Linked DNA regions of Homo sapiens. The protein of the gene in region 2 interacts with the protein of the main gene of each other region in a pairwise test. Each region holds a gene or a part of one and is shown on either strand. Other genes may lie near its edges.

Region 1 (7,017 bases), on a different chromosome or scaffold from region 2:
TGCAGTGGCGTGATCTCGGCTCACTGCAACTTCTGCCTCCCAGGTTCAGGAGATTCTCCTGCCTCAGCCTCCCATAGCTAGAACTACAGGTATGTGCCACCAAGCCTGGCAAATTTTTGTACTTTTAGTAGAGACAGGGCCTTACCATGTTGGCCAGGCTGGTCTCAAACTCCTGACCTCAGGTGACCCACCTGTTTCAGCCTCCCAAAGTGCTGAAATTATGGGCATGAGTCACAGTGCCCAGCCCACTCCTTAAAACTGGATTTTGACCCTTTTGATTATTTCAAATTGCTACCACGATGAGTGCTTACATCACTACTTGTCTCCAGTTTAGCACACAATCATTTATATCCACATGATATACATAAACATATCACATACATTAGACACAGACACATAAAGTGCACATTAAACCCCTTGCACAGCCATAGGCAAAAATAGCCTAGATCACCGATACCCATACCAATCACACGATACATACTCTGCACACATAACATATATAAGCGTCACATACGTTAGAATAATATATTTTATTTAAGAAAAGGAGGGTCGTTCAGCTTGGGTAGGTATAAAGAGAGTCAATATCAGGAAAGTCTTAGGTTAGTCGAGGACAGATGCCATATGAGCTGAATCTTGGAAAAAATGTGGGTGTAAATTAGGCAAATTAGGACAAAATTGTATTACAGATACAGAAACCACACAAAGATTTGGTATCAAGAAATCACGAGGTACATAAACTCTAAGTAGTTGGAAAACACTGACACATAAATGTAAGCGGGGAGTGGCAGGGGCTATTGATGGAGGCAGGGCCCACCACTTTGGAAGCACTGAATACTCTACCAATATCTGAGGATGTGCATAGACTTTCTAGTTGCTGATAGGTTCTATAATCCTCAGGTCTTCTATGTTATCAACATATCCATCTACGCCACAATGGAATTCAATGTAGCTGAAGCTTCTGCTCTCTGTGTACCTATTGTTGTACTTCTCCCAGTGACACTCGAGTACTTTGAGGGCACCTGGGGCCCATACATATGCATTTCTATATCGGTCGCTCCCCTTCTCATTGATGCATGCACGCTGAATTTTGAACCATAAGCTATAGATGAACATATGAAAGCTCTTGCCTTTCAGAGCCTCTTTTTCTCTCATGAGGACATCACATTTGTACTCTTTGAATTCTCGACTTGGACTTAAGTAATGAAGTTTTATGAATTCTCTCCAGTAAATGTTGTTACTGTATACACACAGCCTGCAAAGGATGCAAAGCAGGGCCAAGAGTATGCCCCAAATCTTTAGAGAGGATGTCATCTCAGTCACCACGTCCACCTGCGTGTCTACAGGGAAGAGAAAGAAAAGCATTAACCAGACTATACTCAGAGAGCTGAGCTCCACCTTAAAATTCCTTTCCCTGCCAAGCAGGTACTTGGGCACTATATTGCTATTTGGTTCCATATTAGAAGATGATGATTCTCATTAAAGAATACAGTTTCTGGGCTGGGCACAGTGGCTTATACCCGTAATCCCAGCAGTTTGGGAGGCCAAGGTGGGTGTATCACCTGAGGTCAGGAGTTCGAGAAACACCGTGGCCAACATGGTGAAACCCCATCTCTACTAAAATACAAAAAGTAGCTGGACATGGTGGCTGTAGACCCAGCTACTCGAGAGGCTGAGGCAGGAGAATCGCTTGAACCTGGGAGGCGGAGGTTGCGGTGAGCCGACATCACACCTCTGCACTCCGGCCTGGGTGACAAAAGCAAAACTCCGTCTCAAAAAAAAAAAAAAAAAAGAATACAGTTTCTAAGAACTAAAAATATGCTTTAGCCTGTGAGAGCTAACACAAATTTGGAAAATATAGATAAAGTACCTTTTGAGAATTTCAAATATCTCCTGTCTACCCTGTCTTCTACCCAATTTGAGGAGCCAATCACTATCGAGCTCTCTTTTACCAAATAAGCTCTCAGGAGATCATGTGTCCAATAGAAAAATGACATTTTAAGCGTATTGTCTGCAAAGTGGAAAAGATTGTTGCATTTTAAGGGAATGTAGAAGATGAGTAACTACTTGGGAGGTGGTTCCTAGGCAGAAGGCATTGATTCTGGAAACCACAGCCCAGGCTGCAATTGCACTTCTCTGAAAAATGATGTTTTTCCAACCTTGACTTCCTTATAACACTTTCCCCAAAGTCTGGGTGAAACATGTGATCATTATTAACTATCGGCATCCCTTCTCAGAGGCCATTTCCCTAATTACTGCTATTACAAATGATCTTCATTTGTTAGAGCTTATTGACAATGCCATCATAAAAGGACATCAGTTTAGAACTGTTGCTGTAATCAATCAGGCACCAAAACTAAAACAGTCCCCCGCAGAGCTACTGTGGTCACAGCATAGGATGTATGGTCGTTTGAAAAAGTTATCTCTTTACCAGCTATCTGTCCTCATTTGCCATGAGGAGTATTCCTGGCCCTACTGAACCTCTAGCCTGATTCATAGCTCTGAGTATCGGTGTCCTCAGATAGGCCTAATCACAGCTCCCTACAGACCTGCAAGAGTCTAATGAGATGCAAGCATGTGAGAGCACTTCTAAAGATGTCAAATGCCCACATCAGGCACAGGGTTCCTCATCTGTGGAACCCTGTCCTGGTGATAAAGGCCTACACAAGATAGAAGAGTAGGATGCAAGCAGCTTTAATGCACTGTGCTTAGGAGGACTGGCGGTGAAGGAAGGGAGGGGCAGGGAAAAGCCTGTATCAGTGGGACTGAGGCTAACCAGAATTCAGACCTTTGTTTTCCATGATTTGGATCCTTCTCCATTGTTTGCTATCTAAAAGTTCAATCAGCCTCCTTCCAGTGTTCCTGGCTGTCCCCCGAGCAACCTCAGCAGAGCCCTTCTTACCCTACTTGGACTCTGAGTTCAGGTCACTGATTGTAGTGGGGATCAGCATGTGGATCTGAAGAGCAGAGTCTGCGTCCTCCTCCTTTTCTCAGAGCCCTGGAAATCTACAGCAGTGGAGAAAGGAATAGTAGGGGGAGCTGCAGGGCTCCAGCTGATTGGTAGCCGAGGTGGTGATGGGGAACAGCCTTATTATGTGAACTTGTCCCTGTATCGTTTCATCTGGAACACTTGGGCTCACTCAAACAGTAGCCTCGAGCAAAGGCTACAAACATCAAAGGCTGAGCCCTGGGTACAAAATGATTGCAAGACCCTAGGTGACCCCAGAAAAGGGTTATCTGGTGCTATCAGGAGACAACCAGAGACTTAGCTCTGCTCTCAATTCTAACAAACTTCTGGGGAAGTCCCTGGAGGGTTATGCTATGTTACATGGGAACTTCACTGAGGAAAGCCACCTTTTTTTTTTTTTTGAGATGGAGTCTCGCTCTGTTGCCCAGGCTGGAGTGCAGTGGCGAGATCTCGGCTCACTGCAAGCTCCGCCTCCCGGGTTCACCCCATTCTCTTGCCTCAACCTCCTGAGTAGCTGGGACTATAGGCGCCTGTCACCACGCCCAGCTAATTTTTTGTATTTTTAGTAGAGACGGGGTTTCACCGTGTTAGCCAGGATGGTCTCGATCTCCTGACCTCATGATCTGCCTGCCTCAGCCTCCCAAAGTGCTGGGATTACAGGTGTGACTCGCTGTGCCTGGTCTTTTGCCTTTTTTTTTTTTTTGACAGGGTCTTGCTCTGTCGCCCAGGCTGGAGTGCAGTCGCACAAACACTGCTCCCTGCAGTCTCAACCTGCCAGGCTCAAGCAATCCTCCCACCTCAGCCTCTTGAGTAGCTGGGACTATAGGCATGCAACACCATGCCTGGCTAGTTTTTTGTATTAATTTTTGTAGAGACAGGGTTTCACCATGTTGGCCAGGTTGGTCTTGAACTCCTGAGCCTAGCTAAGCCTCAACACATCAGCCTCTAAAAGTGCTGGGATTACAGGCATGAGCCACTTGGTCAGGCCAGAAAATCACTTTTAATGTTGTGAATTGTGAGACCTTCATTGAGAGGTGAAAGAATATCTAGTGAACACAGTGGCCAAATAGCTATGAATGATTAGGTAGCCAGTATCTGAAATTTCTCTACTCAGTTTTTTAATTATAACCTTTAGCTGTTTGGTGACACTGTACTGCTTACTATTAAAATGTCACATAGCCTGGCCATAGTTTCTACAATGCTACTATACGTAACATCTGACTGTGAAGTATAGGTCACAAGGTGCTGGCTAAGTTGTTTTTCAGGACCTCAAGATTCAGTCCTGAACTCAGCTCAAACTGACAAGACCACAACTTCTTCAACTGAGTTTGTGCAAGTGTTCAATGGTTACCTTTAACATCACAGCCGGAATTTTCCACCATATTTTCCATGCCAACTCCCCACAAATTGGCAAATGTGACCAATACTGGTTCATCAACACTAGTCAAAGTTACGATTTATGAATAAAGTAAGACTCTTGCAAATCTTTTCTAACAACACTTCCAAAGGCTGCTCCTAGCCAAACCACCTTAGTTGATTTTCTCACTGGGCCACCTTATTGTTGGAATGACAGAAGGTTCAGTTTATATCCAGAACTTATCTTCAAACCCCCACTCCTGTGAAGCAGTCCTTGAGTAATAGAAAATCATGTGCTGATAGACTGGATGGACGGGAGATAGTCTTAGAGCAGGTTCTGTGCATCCTTCTACTCTCTAGGTCTTTGGGGGACAGGGGAGAGCAAAACAGGAACAATTCTGGGCCTCTGAATTTGGATGATTTGAGAGGCGATTCTGAGGGAAAATCAGTTTTTTGTCATGTGCCCACACATCCAGAGCTCTTTCCAACAAATGTGCATTGTCTATTGAAGACAAATTCAAGTAGTGACTCAATGAATGTAGAGAGGTGGGAGAGAGAAGCCACCTGAGCCAATGTATGAGCCAGTGTTTCTCAAATACTTGATATTCCACTTTTAATATGGAAAAAAAATCATGGACTCCAAGCATACATCCATGAACTCTCCTATGAGCTAAGCCCAAAGTCCTAAAGCTTTTTGGATATAAACCCAATTAGGAGGCCATCTAAACTAAACTGGGGAAAAGCATATTGTTATATTTACAGAAATTAGCCACTATGAATGCAGCCCAGGAAGGTAACCCAACCAGTATTTCTGGAAACTACGTAATGGGTCTACTTCCTAGGGTTGTCTACCAGCTTGTGTAACAGAAGCTCCTTGGGCAGTGACTTTTGATTTCGGTTTTTAAGGAGGTATTCCCCTTTAAATATAAATTTTAAATCACTTGAAAATTATGTTCATCCTTTATTGTCTTTGATTTTAATTATTTTCTGTTAATTCCTTGATATGTCCTTTTATTATTATTATTATTATTTTTGGAATGGAGTTTCACTCTTGTCGTCCAGGCATGATCTCAGCTCACTGGAACCTCTGCCTCCTGGGTTCAAGTGATTCTCTTGCCTCAGCCTTCTGCGTAGCTGGGAGTACAGGTGCGCACCAACACATCCGGGTAATTTTTGTATTTTTAGTAGAAACAGGGTTTTGCCATGTTGGCCAGACTGATCTCAAACTCCTGACCTCAGGTGATCCACCCGCCTTGGCCTCTCAAAGTGCTGGGATTAAAAGCGTGAGCCACCGCACCAAGCCAATATTTCTTTTGTTAGCCACTATTCAATTCTTAAATGTTTGTGAACTACTGTTTCACAAAACCATAAAAGTGACTTAGGTTCCTCATTCAGGGGATGACAACGTCTATAGGTGTCTTAATCTGTGATCCACGGACTTCCAAGGGCTCCATGGATGGAATTCATAGGATCAATGCAGTAGTGCAGTGCAGAAAATTACATCTCTATTTTCACTCACCCATATTGAAATGTAGGGGCTGGGCATAGTGGCTCACACCTGTAATCCCAACACTTGAGAAGGTCAAAGTGGGAGGATCACTTGAGCTCACGAGTTTGAGACCAGCCTGGGCAACACAGGGAGAAACCCTATCTCTACAGAAAATTAAAACAATTAGTTGGGTGTGGTGGCACATGCCTGTAGTCCCAGCTACTTAGGAGGCTGAGGTGGGAGGATCACTTGAGGCCAGGAGTTGAAAACCAGCCTGGTCAACATAATGATAACCTGACTCTACCAAAAAAAAAAAAGAAAAATTTTTAAGGCCAGTAGTGGTAGCACGTGCCTGTAACCTCAGCTACTTGGGAAACGGAGGCAGGAAGATTGCTTGAGCTTAGAAGTTTAAGGCTGGACTGAGCTATGATAGCACCAGCCTGGGTGACTGAGTGAGACCCTGTCTCTCAAAAACAAAACAAAACAAACATAACAAAAACTAAAAAAAAACCCAAAACCCTAACCCCATACTCCTTGAGACACAGATGAGAAGATGAATGTAGGCATCAGGCCACACACCTATCGTGGTTACACGAGGATTCCCTTGGAGAGAGATAATGGTGGCTGTATTTTCACAATGCTCTGCTTTAGTCAGTTAAGAGAAGTCCAGATAAGATTTCTTACGCGAGGACCAGCAAGGTCTGTTGAGTACAAAGACTGGAGGAAATCAGACAACAAAAACTGAATACTTCCTCATACCTCTTCTCTCAGGTGGTATTGTTTAAGACTCAGCAGTGTGGTTCCCTCATATACTTTGACTGGTCCTGGGACTGCAGACTTAGCACTATCTGGTTTCCCATCTGCCCAGGATGGGAATCAGTACCCACCTCTTGTAGGAATTCTTCAGGGATGAGAGAGAAATTCTGAGCCAGTTGCTGCAACAATGCAGCTTGCAAGGTACGGGCTTGATCTGGGGACACTGTAATATTCACCCATCCTGGGGAAAAGGTAATATTTGCATTCAGTTCAGTCAAGAGATGATGTCCCAAGAAATCGATAAGGTATTCAGGCATATGTAAGAAGTGACGCTTTAGGCAAGTCTGTCACAGTTGGAAATCTAGGGGTTGCAGGAATGGTTCTTTTAGGGTCTCCTCTAAAACTGCCTTCACTTTCATAGTTTCAGAAGACAATTTGAACAAGTGTGTGT
Region 2 (7,497 bases):
CACACACATGCACACACACACAGACACACCCATGCACACACACACAGACACACACATAGACACACACACAGATGCACACACACAGACACATACACACACACACACGTGCTGACAGTAATAAAACTAACATGCATTGGGTACTTCCTATCTATCAAACACTTATCTATACCTCAGTATTATTATTTTTATTATTATTATTACTAATAGGTCCAAATTATAGATAAGGAAACGGAGGCCCAGGAGCTGAGTGACTTGCTCCTGCACACAGTGGGTGAGTGGTGGGGTGGGGTTCCACCCACTGTCTGGTTCCAGAGCCTCGCTCTGCACTTCTCGAATTCAGATTCCTCACCAGCTACGTCGTGTGTCTGGGTACACCCTTCCGTCACTCCTGTTACCCAAAACCATGACCGTCTCAGGAACCAGCTGGCCACAGACCAAACACTCACCCTAACCTGCCATCACACAGAGGCACTGAAGAAGCGACCGGCTCACACGGTGCCAGCCACAAAACCAGCCAACCAGCCAACTAATGAATACAAAATTTAAAATCCCGCTGCCAGATAAAACAACTTAAAGCTGAGGTCTCCCTAAGACTTTGTCAAGAGCATCTTCTGAGCCAGGAGGAACAGGTACCTGGTCCCTTTGCTCCCAACACTCAAGGGTATCATCTTGAAAGCCTTTAGCAGAGAGAGATGGTCTGGCAGCTTCCTGAAGGGAAAAGTCAGCGGCTCCTGGACAGCACCCTCCTCCCCGTTTGCTGCTGTGCGTCCGCCCTTTCTGACCTCACTCTTCAGTTAAGGATCCAGGGTGCTCAATCCTTACTTGAAGCGTAAGTCCCCTCCTCGAAGGAAACACTTTCCACCCTCTGCTATTTTGATTACAGTGTAAATTGATTTCAGGTTGTTCCTGGTGAGGAGGTTTTGCCTGGGGAAGGAGTAAGGGACTGGACGCGTCGGATATTTGGGGAAGAAGGAAAACCCAGTGTGCGCAAGGACCACAAAGGGGTCCTCCAGCTGGAGCTGAGCTCTGCCGGCGGGCACGTGCTGCTTGTCCTCCCAGGAGCCTTGGGCTGCTCCCTCCGGAAGGCACAGGGAGAAATAAGGGGTCCTGAGAAATGTCACTGCCTGCACCCAGCAAAAGCCCATTTCTTTCTTCTCCTTCTCTTTTTATTTTTCTTTTCTTCTTGCTCTCTCATTGCCCCCAGCCCGCCCCACTCCTGTTCTCTCCTCCTGCACCTGCAATTCCTAAACAACCCTGATGTTTTTCTGATTTCCGGTCCCTCCGTCGAGTCTGTCTTTAAAGATGAGTACTTTTTGCTTTGCTACTGTTATTTTTTTAGATAATTTATTGTTAAATAAAGAATTTTAAAGCAAAATGCAGTGGGACAGATGTCAAAGGCAAGTTGAAAACATAATTTCTGTCAAATACTATTCTGGATTTCCTAAGGTTAGGCACAAGAAAAGCATCAAATGAAAAGGTACTTACTCAAACTAAGTCTTTTTAAAAAGTCTGTATTTGAAAGGAAAACAACTTTTCACTAAAAATATAAATCATTCTTATTACAGGAAAACCATAATTTAAGAGACTGAGAAAAGTTTTTGATTCACAAATAAATGGCATCTCCCTAATACACTTAGGACTGTTTGTTTTTAATCAGTGACTCTTAAAAATCACTGCTTCCACCTGACAAACTCAGGCGAATCACTATGGATTGGTGTCCTCTGAGCCACCCTGAAGCATCCCATTTTCTCTACACATGTCCTTTTCTCCAACTTTCAGCAAAGCAAGAATGGAGAAAAAGAGGATTAGAAGGAACTTCAGTTGGTTCCCTGGTGAATAACTTAACAAAATAAAACCTGCTTTTCCATTTGTATTACACATTCACAATCTCTCACTCTTACTTACTCTATTGGTGAATTTCAGATTCTGTCCACACATATAATTATTTGCCTGAACTTAACACTATCTTCCTGACAAATAGTAAATCTCCCAAGGACATCTCCGAACCTGGCAGTGTCCACAGGCCACGTCCTCCCACAGGAGTCCCTCGCCTGCTATGCAGCTGTTGGCGTCCTGAGCGATCCCAGTGTTTCCATGGGGGCAGAGCAAAACCTTGGGGATTCTCTAACATAATTTTAAGACTACATTTCACACTTAAATGACCACGTTATGAAACCTGGCAGGAAAATCCATGTTATTAATAAATGCCATGTCTCTTGCTCTCCCAAACACAGGAAGTATTTTTTGCTCTGCATATGTCTGCGGAGACTGTGGGGTCCCAGAGTGGAAAACTTCTCTAGTAACAAAGTACAGAAATTATCCCTGAAGTATAGTCTTTGCTTTGCTACTTCTGTAAGCTGTGTAACTGGTGAATTTTGCCTGTCTCCTGTCCTCCACTCCCCAAGCTGCAAGTCCGCAGGTGTCAGTGGGGCCTTGGCCCTCTCCCACGGGCCTCCCCGACACCCCCTGCAATGCCCTTCCCCCCGGCAGACCCCAGCTAGTGCTCACTGCCTGCGCTGGTTTGATTTCGATAGGTCCACAAGAGGATTTCCACCCTCTTAGTCTCTAAGGAAGATGGACTGCCCCAAGAAGGGAACCGCAATGAGGCTTGAAATCTTTTTCGTCTGGTGGGGGCAATGGGATGTATCAGGATCCTGCCTCCTGAGATGCGGCCCACCTAAACGGGCGTGGACATCTCCTCTTGGCCACACTCGAAACATCCCATGCTGCGGCCAAGCTCGGATAATAAAATGGTGCCACTAATTGTACGCCTTCCCAAAGCCTCCCACCTTCATTTTCTGATTGCCGTTTCTGAAAGATGGAGGTGTAGGCAGCTGTTGAGAATGAGCCACTTACCTGGCAGGTAGCAGCAAAAGGTCTGAAATGGCAGATGAGTCCTGGTGAGCTCACCTCCTCTGCAAAGGGTGATGATTGCTGTAAAGTGTCTTGGTCCCAGATGCTAAGATTCCCTAGACGTGGACTGGCAGCTGAGCTCCAGAGGCCAGGGCACGTGTGACAGAATTATTTATCCATCTTCCACCCTAAGATATATGCCGTTTGCTCTGCCCTTGGCTATGGAAACCAAGATGGATAGAACAAAACAAGGAAGTCGTCACATCCTGTCTCTGAGAAAAATCTTGAATTCCCATGTAAAATATCTCTCCAGGGTCACAGAAGGAGGGGAAAGGTATCTGAGAGCTTTGTAGAGAGCGACAGCTGCAGAGGCTCAAAGTGAGGAGAAAACGCTCCAGCTGGGTTCAGGGTCTTTGTGCCAGTGAAGCTCGGACTCCAAGGAGGCAGGGTAGCAGTCCCCGAACAGTGAAAGAGAGTAGACTGCAGTCTCCACTAACTAACCACGAGGAAGGGGCTGATGACCAATTTTTAACCCACCATAACCTTCTCCTCAGGACAAGGTCAGTAAGGAACAAATCCTGGGGGCATTGTCGTGAGGCAACCTGCAAAACCTGTTCACGTGCAACTTAGAAATGCAGGAGGGTGCTGGATTGGGATTTCTCTAGTGGAGAAGAGGTCAGAAAAGAAGCAGCAAGCACTACCCCAGCCCAGCCCACCCCATCTTACTGTAGGCCATGGTGCAACTTGGGCATTAGCGGACTGAGGCACCAGCCACCCAGCTGCAGCCCACACTGACGTCCCCTCCAGGGAACAGGCCAGAGCTGAGGCACGAGCAGCTCAAGCACATGCAGTGTTGTGGGAAACTGAGGACCGGAGAGACCGATGTGAAGAACAGGAGGATTGTTTATTTTAGGTACACACCGGCTCAGTGGACTCACATCCAAAAAGCTGAGCATTAAACAAAGACAGAGCGGGGTTTTTGTAAGTGGACTTACAATAAATAAAACAAAAGCAGCTAATCATGATAGGTCACATAATCTATAGCATAGCATAACTTGTGGCCTTGCACAGCGGGTGACTTTGTAGCTGCATTGAAAGAAAAACAAGAACTGGCTAAGTACAGACATTTGTAAAACACAATCATGCTTAAGAAGCCTGGGAAAACAGTAACAGTAAAAGAATTTGTCTTTCTCTCTTTTTCCTTCAACCTTGCTCTGGAAGTGGGGCGGCGGGTATCTGGAGCCCATTCCTTTGGCCTTGGCTTTCTGGACACTGTTATAACTGTCCTTGCAGTGGGCTTGCTATAGGCAGAGGAAAACTTGTCCTTTACTTTTTAACCCTTGCCTTGCCTGTTACTTTTCTTGGAGTGAATGAAGGCATATGTATTTTTAAATTTTCTGCCTCAGTAGCACACCCCAGGGACTCCCAGAAGTGCCTGTGTTTGTAGAGGGGCCTCTGCAGGTGACAGGGCGCTACATGGGTGGGAGACGGGAGCCAGCAAGCTTCAGGCATGGACCTGGAGGTGACTGTCTGTGCTCAGACAGGCTGGTGAGACTGGGCACCCAGGCTTATTAATGTGAACAGATGTCCCTAGGACAGCAAAAGGGGCTGAACAGTGAGCTCAAACAGTGGGTGCAGTTCCCCGGGCCTGGGGAGACAGAGGAGGGCTCAAGGACAGGGTATACTTAAGATGGATGCTGCATAAACAGTAGGATCAGGGAAGCCATGGGCAGCCCGGGAGGACAGAGCCTGCGAGGACAGACATTCTTCGTGGAGGGAGGTGATTAGCATGTGGGAGGTAGGAAAAGGCTAGGGGTTAGCCAGACCAGTGTGTGGCTCACTAGTGGAAGGGAAGGTTGAACAGAAGTGGATGGGACCACATTGCAGAGGCCCTTGCATGCCACATAGGGAAGTGAAAGAGAAGGAAAATTGCACTTGTAGAGAGGGGCTGCTCGAAAACGAGAACATGGCCTAAACTTTTCATTGCCCTTAGGTTGGATTCCTCCATGCTGCCTGGGGAGAGGTGAGATTGTCACAGCAGAAATGCAAAGAGAGAGAGAAATGGGCAGAGTCCACTTCTGTGGCTCCTAGACACAGCCCTGGTGGGATGTGGGAGGGGGACCCCACCTGCCACCACCGCCTGCATATCAGGCGCATCATGCAGTAGGAAAGATGTAGACAGCGGCTGTCCCTGCCAGCCGAACCTCCCATTCCAAGACCCAGTAAATGCATAAAGGCTCAGATCCAAAATGAAGGTAGGTGCTGAACCCCTGGCGGACTATAGGTGCCACTGGAGAGAATGGACCCTCATCTGTCCTTGTGTGGGATTTTTGGGTGTCAATTTTCTTCCCAGAAACCTCTGTGGCACCTGAGTTCTTGTCCTGCCTCCAGGAAGAATGAGGTCATGAGGTACACAGACAAGTGAAGGGTGAAGAAGATGCAGAGAAGCTTTATTGAATGCTAGAACAGCTCAGAGGTGATCTGCAGTGAGCTCCTCTCTGTAGGTAAGTCCTCCCCTCCCACTGAGTGTTCAGCTCTCAGCAGAGAAGGCCCTTGAGAGGGTAGCTCCTCTCTGCCCACTGGTCCTCCTGCCACCTGCTGCTCTCAGCAGACAGAAGTCCCTGGAGAGAGTGGCTCCTCTCCACAGGCAAGTTGTTCTGAACACCTCTGCAGGTCTCTGAAGCTCTCAGCAGAGAGGGTAGCTCCTCTCTGCAGCTGGCCATCCCATCGTTTCTCCATCCTCTGCCCTGCTCTGGCTGAGCCTCAGGCTTTTATGCACCTCAGAGGGGAGGAAGTGCATGCTGATTGGTCCATGGGCAGCCAGAGGGAGACACCACAAGTCCCCACTCCAGTCAGAGGGACTGGCAGCCAGGCCTTCAGGCCCTCCCTGGCCTGAAGGCGGGGCCTTACTGGGGACCCGCCTTCTCCCTCCAGGGACTCTGTCTGCCTCCCACTGCCATTTATGGTCCCTGGCTAGGCCCCAACCCCGCTCTGAGAGTGGGAGCAGAGAGAGGCCAGGCAGTGGGAAGCAGACAGCCCTGAGCCTGCAGGGATGGGGGTTGGGGGGCTGGGTACAGGGTGGTTCTTCCCAGGCCCTGGAGGTGCAGAATGCACAGATGCCGGGGTCCTGCTCCTGGGAGGGTGGCCGAAGCTGCACCCGGGGAGCTCCTGCCCCATCAATTCGGAAGGGGCAGGGCTCCTGCTTGTCCTGGCTCCTGCCTCCTCCGTGGAGCAGGAGGCTGAGGTCTGCAGCTGTGGGTTGGGTGGCTGCAGCTGCACGCAGAAGGGCAGATCCTGCCTGCCCCTGGCTCCCACCCAGGAGCTCAGGGAGGCTTGGATCCACAGCTGCAGTTTGGGTGGCTGTAGACCCACACAGGAGGGTTGGGATCCTGCCTGATCTGTACAGCAGGAGGCCTGGGTCTGCAGTCACAGTTTGGGTGACTGCAGCGGTACCCGGGGAGCTCCCGCCCCATCTCAGAAGGGGCAGAGCTCTTACTGGCTCCGTGAAGTATGCAGCCCCAGCCAGGCCTCCCTGCTGCAGCCCCTGTGATGGCAGCGGCCATCACGTGGAGGGAGGTGATTGGCACGTGTGGGGTAGGAAAGGCTAGGGGCTAGCCAGGCCAGCATGGAGCCATCACTTGGACAGCGGAGAACATGCCCCATTATATAGCTTCCGTGGTGCACAGCAGCCCTCACCATGAGGTCGTCTGAGGGAATTCTGGAGGGGCTAATGGGAGAATCCTCATCCCCAGGGCAAAGGCTATTCTCACGCCCAGCGTGGGCTACCAGTGGAGATAGAAGCAAAGTCATGCCAGCCTCGCAAGTAGTGAATTCCTCCTTTTCTGACGATCCCCCATCCACCTTCCCCGGCAGCCCACAACATGGCCCTTGAGCTTCCTTACTGCATTTTCATTTTCTCCTGTTCCGTTCTCCAGGGAGCTCACACTGACATTCTTGTGCCTGTCAGCTGGCACAGTGCCCCCCATTGTGCTTTGTCACACAGATAGAGACGTGCACAGGCACTGGGAGATAGGAGAGGCCCACTGCTGCCCTCACAGCCACAGGTGCTCATCTTTGGCTCCTGAGATTGTGGGGGCTGCAGGAGCCACACACACCCTCTACTCCCAAACAGCCTGACCTCGCCAAGGCAAGCCATTTTCGAGGGTGACTTGAGTGGTGCTGCCCAAAGGGATCAGCACGGAGCATCCCTAGCTCGGAGGAATTCCTTCACTGCAAGAAGTAGCCAGCACCTTCTCCTGACACACAGAAGTGGGTAGAATAAGGAGCTCCAGCTGCGGGCTTACGCCAGGTAGAGTGAGCATTGGTTATGGAGGAGACCCCGTGAGAACAGCGCTCATCTGAGTCCCGACCATTGGTTATGGAGGAGACCCTGTGAAAACAGTGCTCATCTGAGTCCCGACCATTTGTAGGAGGGAAGTGGGTTGGTGCCCTTATATTACACCTTTTCAGAGAGCCAGCCAAAACGCAGTTTGACAGGGTTTGAGTTGCATAAACAGGTGGTAATAATAATAATAATAAACTAGGGGGAGCTGAGCGTGGTGGCTCACGCCTGTAATCACAGCACTTTGAGAAGCTGAAACAAGGGTCTTGTTTGTGTCCAGGAGTTCGAGAGCCCAGAAGTTC

What was found. The genes of interacting proteins can lie anywhere in the genome.
Region 1: the proteins of BTNL9 (region 2) and EDDM3A interact in binary tests that used the Homo sapiens proteins (3 or more experiments, as listed by UniProt).

What each region holds. Positions count from the first base shown.
Region 1 is NC_000014.9:20,741,875-20,748,891, reverse strand, and holds EDDM3A (epididymal secretory protein E3-alpha precursor), read right to left. Parts: upstream 3,006-7,017; 5' UTR 2,900-3,005; intron 1,338-2,899; 5' UTR 1,312-1,337; coding exon 868-1,311; 3' UTR 512-867; downstream 1-511. UniProt on the Homo sapiens protein: Possible function in sperm maturation.
Region 2 is NC_000005.10:181,035,792-181,043,288, reverse strand, and holds the start of BTNL9 (butyrophilin-like protein 9 isoform a precursor), read right to left. Parts: upstream 3,024-7,497; 5' UTR 2,857-3,023; intron 1-2,856.